Linked DNA regions of Homo sapiens. The protein of the gene in region 2 interacts with the protein of the main gene of each other region in a biochemical or structural test. Each region holds a gene or a part of one and is shown on either strand. Other genes may lie near its edges. The genes, in order: MXI1 and RPS6KB1.

Region 1 (3,818 bases), on a different chromosome or scaffold from region 2:
CTTCTCTGGACTTCATTCCTTGGCTGTGAAATGAGTACATGTGTATATGGTTAAGAGCACAGGCTCTGGAATCAGAGGCCTAAGTTCAAAACTCAGCTCCGCGACTTACTAGCTATATATCCTTTGGGCAAATTACCTGGCATCCCTGCTCCTCAGTTCCCTCCTCCGTAAAAGAGGGTAATAAAATTGCATCCATCAGAAGGTTGTTGTGAAGATCAGGGGAGATAATGAATGCATAGCCCCATACTTGGAATATAGTCAGTGTTCAATAAATTGTAGCCATTATTGATATTATGCCATACAATTAGTTGCTGCTGCTGCACGCCAGCACCCTCTTCATTTTCCTCAGTTTCACCTCTAGACTTTTGCCCAGGCATCTCCAGATGAATCCCCATTTCTGGATGTGTCAGTGGGAGACTGTTTCCATCAGAGATGAGAGATGGATGAGCAGCTACTGTTTTGCCTTGGTAGCTAATGGAGCCTCCTTTTTGCTCCCAAACCAGGAATGGCTCAATTCAACTTCTCTAACTTCCAAGGCCCTGTCCCCTTTCCCTGGATCTCCTTTCCAGGACACACAGTCCTTGGGAGCTCCGTGATTCTGAAAGCCGTAACAATATCCTCAAAAAAGCCTTCTTCTGGTATTTACCAGTCAGCAGAGATCATATTTAAAACTGGAAAAAATAAGTTGAATCTGGGGAACATAATTTGGGATGCAGAGGAAATAGGGCCTGATTTAAGAATGCTCTTCACATAACTCCACTAAAGACAAATACCCTACTCCACCCCCACCATACTTCAACCTACAGAGTTTTCAGAAAGAAGCATCTGCACATAGTAGACATTCAATGTACATTTGAAGAATGTATGAATTCATAAGATTGCTGCCATGCAAAAACGTGACCAGCTTGAACATTAGTTGCCATCAAAGCCCTCGATTTCAGCAGAAGTCACTCTAGTCTCCTTCTTTCTTATTTGTTTCTCAGGGTCACAGCTGTTCACAGGATGCAGTCTCAGCTCTTCAGGTCTGAACTATCATCTTCTTGCAGGGATTGGTCTCACCACCCAAGGGAGTTGGAGATCAGTATTTCTGACTCGTCTCCAAATCTTCGGAAAGGCTGTCACGTGTCCCCTGGCCTCCAAACCTGATCCTCGTGCCATAGCTAGCAGTAAATGACAAATCTAACCAATCAAAACATTTATATTAAGGATCTACTACTGTATGCCCAGTGGTGTGCTATATGCAATGGGTAACATGCATTGAATACTGTAAGTGATCTTTTCTCTTAAGTTACTAATAAACTCCTTGTAAAGGTAAAGCTAACACACAGGAAGCAAGTAGAGAAGTGCATGGTACTGATTATCAAAGCTCAGAGAAGTTGCTATTTATTGAGCACCTATTATATCTCAGGTACGTTAAATATTTAAGTGCAGTGCCTCATTGAGTTGTTTGACAATGATATGAGGGTCATACTATTGTTATCCCCATTTTGCAAAAAGGAAATGGAACCTCAGGCTAAGTAAGTTGTGTCCAAAGTCACAAAGCCAGTAAGCAGTAGAGTAGCAAGCTGGGCCCTGCTCCATGTGACTGCAAAGGTTTCATTCTCTCAAGTACAATGACTTAACAAATAGAGCCAAATGGGCTGAAATAGCTAGGGGAAGCTTCCTGGAGGAGGTGGAAACTGATCTAAGTCTTGAAGAGAAGGTAGGATACAGATATCCCTAGGGGAGTAAGAGAATGAAAGCATTCTAGACAGTGGAAGAGTCTAAGTCGAGCACAGAGGTTCGACTGTGAAGCCTGCTTGCTGGTGGATCTGCTGTACAGACACAGAGGTTTCAGGGCAAGGAAGAGGAGATTAAGTCAGAAGGCAGGGTGGGGCCAAATGACACCACACAACAGCAGCTTCCTCTACCAGGAGGAACAGGCTGTTTCTTGGGCTGTCCGTGCCCCTAGGAAAGCACCCCACCCTCAAACCCAGGTGATCCACTCCAAGGAGCCTTATGGCTTTCTACTCTCATCTGATCGTCCTTCCCTATCTTAAGTGTTGCCTCCAAAGCAACCTCCTCCAGACACTAGGAAGCCCATTTCTCTCCTCCAGACCTTACCTGCTCTCACAGCTTGTTTCACTTACCTGCCAGTCGGCTCTTATGCACATAACATCCCTTTATGGATCTGTTCTTCTCTTTTAGTTTTAACCTTTTCCAAGATCTTTTTCTACTTATTAGTCAGTCCTTAATTCCCACCCTTCCACTGGACTCAAAATGCATATAGGTGATGATGTCAGAGATTATTTACATATAATTTCTGAATTTGTGGTAATAGGATCACAGCCTTCATGATTAATATTTCTGGAGGCCTTCAATTTGTGATCCGTAGAGATTCACATCAGTTGGAGTTTTGGGAGAATGTACCTGCCTTTCCTAGGGAATCCCCCCTGCCTTGCACACAGCAGACAGTCAACAATGTGACTTAATTTGAACCCCTCCTCCAAGAAAACTCAACCTCTCCACTGGAAGTAATTCAGCCATGTGGCCACAACTTGGTGAACACTACCAGTACGGAAACCTCAACAAGGGAACGAAAAGCAGTTCTGGCTACGATGGAAAATAAGGCAAGCTCCTGCCAAGTAAGTACTTCGCAAACAGCAGTAAAAACGGAACGTGTTAACTCGTGACCAGGGTCCACCATGCATCTCAGAAAGGTCTCACCGAACCCGAAATGGAGAATCGGGGCCCGACACTCATCTCCGGACAGAAGAGCGTCCCTTTAAGAAGAGACTGGACCAGCTGGCCGCACTACAGCTCCCAGAGATTTCCTGGCTTGCAGCCTGGCTCCACCCCCCACCCAGCCTCCGGCCCCAGCAACGCGTGACGTCAGAAGAGGCTGGAGCTGCCGATTGGCTGAACGACGCAGCTAGGTCAAGTCCAGTCGGAGGAAAGAAGTTTGTCTCCATGTGGAAACCATGTGTCTCTAGCTGGGAGGGGGAGGAGGAGAAGGCGGAGAAACCGAGATCAAGTGATTATAGGGGAACTCGCTGAAATGAAGGCGGGGAGGTTGTGCACCTGAGTCGGCCAACGATGCCCTTTTGCAGTAGTGACCGAAAAAAAAAAAAAAAAAGACGTACACAACAAACTACCCAACCCCACCCCCAATAATAACTACTAAAAAGCTAGGGTCCCTGCTTCCTTCCAGAAACCAGGGACCCGGTAGATGCTGGAATCCTATCGGAACGCCCAGATCCCTCTCCCTCCCCCAACGACTGAATGATGTAAGCGTTTCGGAAAGCAGAGCTCTGGAGCAAAACAAGCCCCGCGCGCGCCGAGCGACCCGCAGTGCCCGAGCCGGGCGCACGCACGACCCGCCCCCCGACTCGCGTTATTGCTGTGCACACGCGGATTGCCGTGACGCGCGGGCATTGTGTGCAGCGAGCAGAAAACAACGACGAGCGCCGCCAGCGCGAAGAAGCGCCCCCCATAAAACGAGGCAGATGTAGGGCCCGCCGTTTTCCGTACCCAGAGACCTAGACCGGGCAGGAGGAGGGGAGGAGAGGGGGTGGGATAAAGTGGCCCCCGTGGACCGCTTCTCTTTGCAAGGGGGATAACAGAGGGCCTGGCGGATGGTCGCACGGAGTTTGCCGGAGGTCACCCCAGCCTGTTCGAGCTGTTGGGGACGGGGCGAGGGCCTGGAGCGGGGTCTCTGCAGCCAAACTGGGCACGGCGCGGCGCCCCAAGCTCTCGGGGAAATCTGGGGGCCGTTGGCATCACGTCATTTAGAGCCAAACAGCAGCGGCGAAAAGAAGCAAGAGAGCTAAAAATACTCC
Region 2 (3,818 bases):
ATCATGCCACTGCACTCCAGCCTGGGCAACAGAGAAAGACCCTATCCCCCCCCCAAAAAAAAAAAAAAGAAAGAAAAGAAAAAGGAAAAAAAAAAAAAAACAACTAAGGAAACTGTCAACTTCTGAGGTGTGATGATGGGATGGCAGTTATGTTTAAACAAGATGACCTAATCATTTTTTAAGCTGGGCAGTAGGTATATGACAGTTAACTTCCTTACAATTGTTTGTTGTTTTTTAAAGTGGGGACATTATGCTCCATGACCAAAAAATAATCACCATCATCATCCTCCTCCTTCTCCAACTACATCCTAAGGAATGGAAAAAGAAACTGTATTTTCTCAGATTCTGAGGTGGGAGAAGGACAATAACTAACACACTAACTGATTTACTCACAAACATATTGTTATGGGTTGAATCGTGTGCCTTACCCACCCCCAAAAAATTTCGTACATTGAAATTCTAACCTCTAGTTCCTCAGAATGTGACCTTATTTGGAAAGGGTTATTGCAGATGTAATTAGTGAAGATGAGGTCCTACTGGAGTAGAGAGGAACCCTAATCCAATATGCCTGGTATCCTTATAAAAAGGGGAAATTTGGCCACAGATATGCACACAGGTAGAACACCATGTGAACATGAAGGCAGAGATCCGGGTGATGCACCTACAAGCCAAAGAATGACAAAGATTACCAGCAAACCACCAGAAGCCAGGGGAGAGGCATGGAACATACAGTTTCTCACAGTAGTCAAAGAAACCAACTCTAACAATGTGATCTAGAACTTCTAGTCTCCAGATCTATGAGATAATAAATTTCTGTTGTCTAAGCCACCCGGTTTGTGGTACTTTGTTGCAGCAAGCCTAGCAAACGAATGCACACATATTCTATACTTTGAAGAAAAAATTCCCAGAGAATCATATTTAAAATGGTTAAATTAAGCAAAATAAAACAAACCAAAAAAAGGAAAGTCCCAACTACCTGAAATATTTGTCTTAGGTAACTGACTTAAAAATAGCTAATACAGTCAATTGCCACTGGGTTTAGTTCTTTACAAGATAGTACAAAAATAAAAGATGCTTGGCTGGGTGCAGAAGCTCACACCTGTAATCCCAGCACTTTGAGAGGCTGAGGTGGGTGGATCACTTGAGCCCAGGAGTTCAAGACCAGTCTGGGTGACATGGCAAAACCCTATTTCTATAAAAAATACAAAAAAATTAGCTAGGCATGGTGACACGTGTCTGTAGTCGTAGCTATTTGGGAAGCTGAGGTGGGAGAATCACCTGAGCCTGGGGAGGTCAAGGCTGCATTGAACTGTGATCGTGCTGCTGCACTCCATCCTGGGTGACAGAGTGAGACCCCATCTCAAAATAAAATAAAATAAAGATGCTGGAGAGGATAGACCAGAGATCTTTGAACTGCTAATAAAAATAATGTTTCTGTCTGCTCTGAGATTTTTCTTATTCTAAAAAAATATCAAGCGATCCTCCTGCCTCAGCCTTGCAAGTAGCTGGGACTTACAGGCACAAGCCGCCACACCCAGCTAACTTTTAAATGTTTTGTAGATATGGAGTCTTGTTATGTTGCCCATGCTGGTCTTGAACTCCTGGCCTCAAACAATCCTCCCACCTTGGCCCTTTAAAGTTTGGGGATTACAGGCGTGAGCCACTGCACCCAATTATACACTTTCATGTATACTTACCAACAGAGGTTTAAAGGGGGGCTCCACCTTTCGAGCCAGAAGTTCTTCCCAGTTAATGTGTCTAAAGAATGGATGAGCCTAGGAAAAAAAAAGCAGGAAGAAAAGTTGAGGGGACTAGACTTTGCTGGATTGATAAATTAATCACCTTTTTGAAGTTACAAGTCACAAAATAAGCTAAACTTATAAGCAACTACATATAACCCTCAGAAATACATAAAACTAGCATTATCTTCCCCACAAAACACCAAAGATGCCAATCCCTACTTGAACTTCTCCAGCGTCCCCAGGACCAGCTCCCAGACGAGAAGCAGCATTTCTTTTCAGCAGCTTTAAAGAGGAAAAAAAGCTTGGATAAAGAACCTTAGTCAAACTGATTTTTTTTTTTCCTTTTTAGACTGTGCTTGTCTACTTTGGCTTGAGAAAATATAGTTTATTGGCCAGGCACAGTGGCTCATGCCTGTAATCCCAGCACTTTGGGAGGCTGAGGCAGGTGGATCACCTGAGGTTGGGAGTTCGAGGTTGGCCAACATGGTGAAACCCCTTCTCTACTAAAAATACAAAAATTAGCCTGGCGTGGTGGTGAACACCTGTAATCCCAGCTACTAGGGAGACTGAGGCAGGAGAATCACTTGAACCTGGGAGGTGGAGGTTGCAGTGAGAGCCAAGATCATGCCATTGCACTCCAGCCTGGACGACAGAGCAAGACTCCATCTCAGAAAAAAAAGAAAAGAAAAGAAAAGAAAATATAGTTTACTAATTACTACTTAATATTGTTTAAGGGTCTGTAATCCCAGCACTTAGCACTTTGGGAGGCCAGGGCAGGTGGATCACCTGAGGTCAGGAGTTCCAGACCAGACTGACCAACACGGTGAAACCCTGTCTCTACTAAAAATACAAAAATTAGCCGGGCGTGGTGGCGGGTGCCTGTAATCCCAGCTACTTGAGAGGCTGAGGCGGAAGAATCGCTTGAACCTGGGAGACTGAGGTTGCAGTGAGCCAAGATCGCACCACTGCACTCTAGCCTGGGTGACAGGGCAAGACCCTGTCTCAAAAAAAAAAAATTTAAAAAAAGAATATGAAAAGAAAGTCTTTAAACAAATCTGTACTTCGCCTTCAAAAATTGAAGACTTTTTTGTTCAATATTTATATATGACTCTTTATTCAAAATATACATTAAATTCTATCTAGTTAAATCCTAGTCATTGAATCTTGTAGTGTCAGTGACCATTTAAGAACCTTACCTTTTTAAGCAGATCTCTGGCTTCTTGTGTGAGGTAGGGAGGCAAATTGAGTTTACATTTGAGGATTTTGTCAATTGTTTTCTTTCTATTCTCCCCAGTGAATGGGGGCTAAGAGTAGAAGACAAGTGAAAAATATTAGCAGGGAGAGAAAAATATTAGCATATAAGAAACAAATTTTGAATAATATTATCCATTTCCTAAATTAGTTATACATGGAGATCAGAAATGTATGCTGTGAAATGGGCTAACTGCTAAAGACCTTTATTTTGTTTTACAGACAGGGTCTCAACTATGTTGTCAAGGCTAGATTCTATTAATAATCCTTAGCTCAAATGATCCTCCCACCTCAGCCTCCTGAGTAGCTTAGGCTACAGGCATGCACCACTGTGGCCGGCAGACGTGCAGTTTTTAAGCAACAGGACAGAGGAAGTAGCAGTGTCCTGGAAGGAAGCCTGTGTTTCCACCATTAACTTTCTGTGTGATAAGTGAGCTATGTGATTTTATGCTTCAATTTCTCCATTTATAAAATAAGGGCATTATCTATTCAACATCTATTTCACAGGCCTGCCATGACATAGATCATTTAAAAGAAAATGTTTCGGAAAGTATGGGATCCCATATAATCATACAGCATTATTAGTGTTAAACTGCTAATAACAAATCTTTGGGCTTTGAAAACTCCACTGGTAACATGTTCAGAAAGCACAGGACAGGTCTCTTGCTATAGTGACTCAGCACAGACCAATAATACATGCAGCTTTTAACTGTGCACCTACTGCTCCAGTCAGCATGTCATACATTAATGCTCCCAAACTCCACCAATCCACAGCACGATTGTGGCCACTTCTCATCAAGATTTCAGGGGCCCTACAATGAGGAA

The links.
Region 1: of the proteins of RPS6KB1 (region 2) and MXI1, one has a biochemical effect on the other in vitro, tested with the Homo sapiens proteins (one study listed by BioGRID).

The regions. Positions count from the first base shown.
Region 1 is NC_000010.11:110,210,371-110,214,188, reverse strand, and holds part of MXI1 (max-interacting protein 1), read right to left. Parts: intron 1,322-3,818; exon of another isoform or gene 1-1,321. UniProt on the Homo sapiens protein: Transcriptional repressor. MXI1 binds with MAX to form a sequence-specific DNA-binding protein complex which recognizes the core sequence 5'-CAC[GA]TG-3'. MXI1 thus antagonizes MYC transcriptional activity by competing for MAX.
Region 2 is NC_000017.11:59,934,421-59,938,238, reverse strand, and holds part of RPS6KB1 (ribosomal protein S6 kinase beta-1), read right to left. Parts: intron 3,806-3,818; coding exon 3,715-3,805; exon of another isoform or gene 3,711-3,714; intron 3,047-3,710; coding exon 2,939-3,046; intron 2,025-2,938; coding exon 1,962-2,024; intron 1,776-1,961; coding exon 1,698-1,775; intron 662-1,697; coding exon of another isoform or gene 613-661; exon of another isoform or gene 465-612; intron 1-464. UniProt on the Homo sapiens protein: Serine/threonine-protein kinase that acts downstream of mTOR signaling in response to growth factors and nutrients to promote cell proliferation, cell growth and cell cycle progression.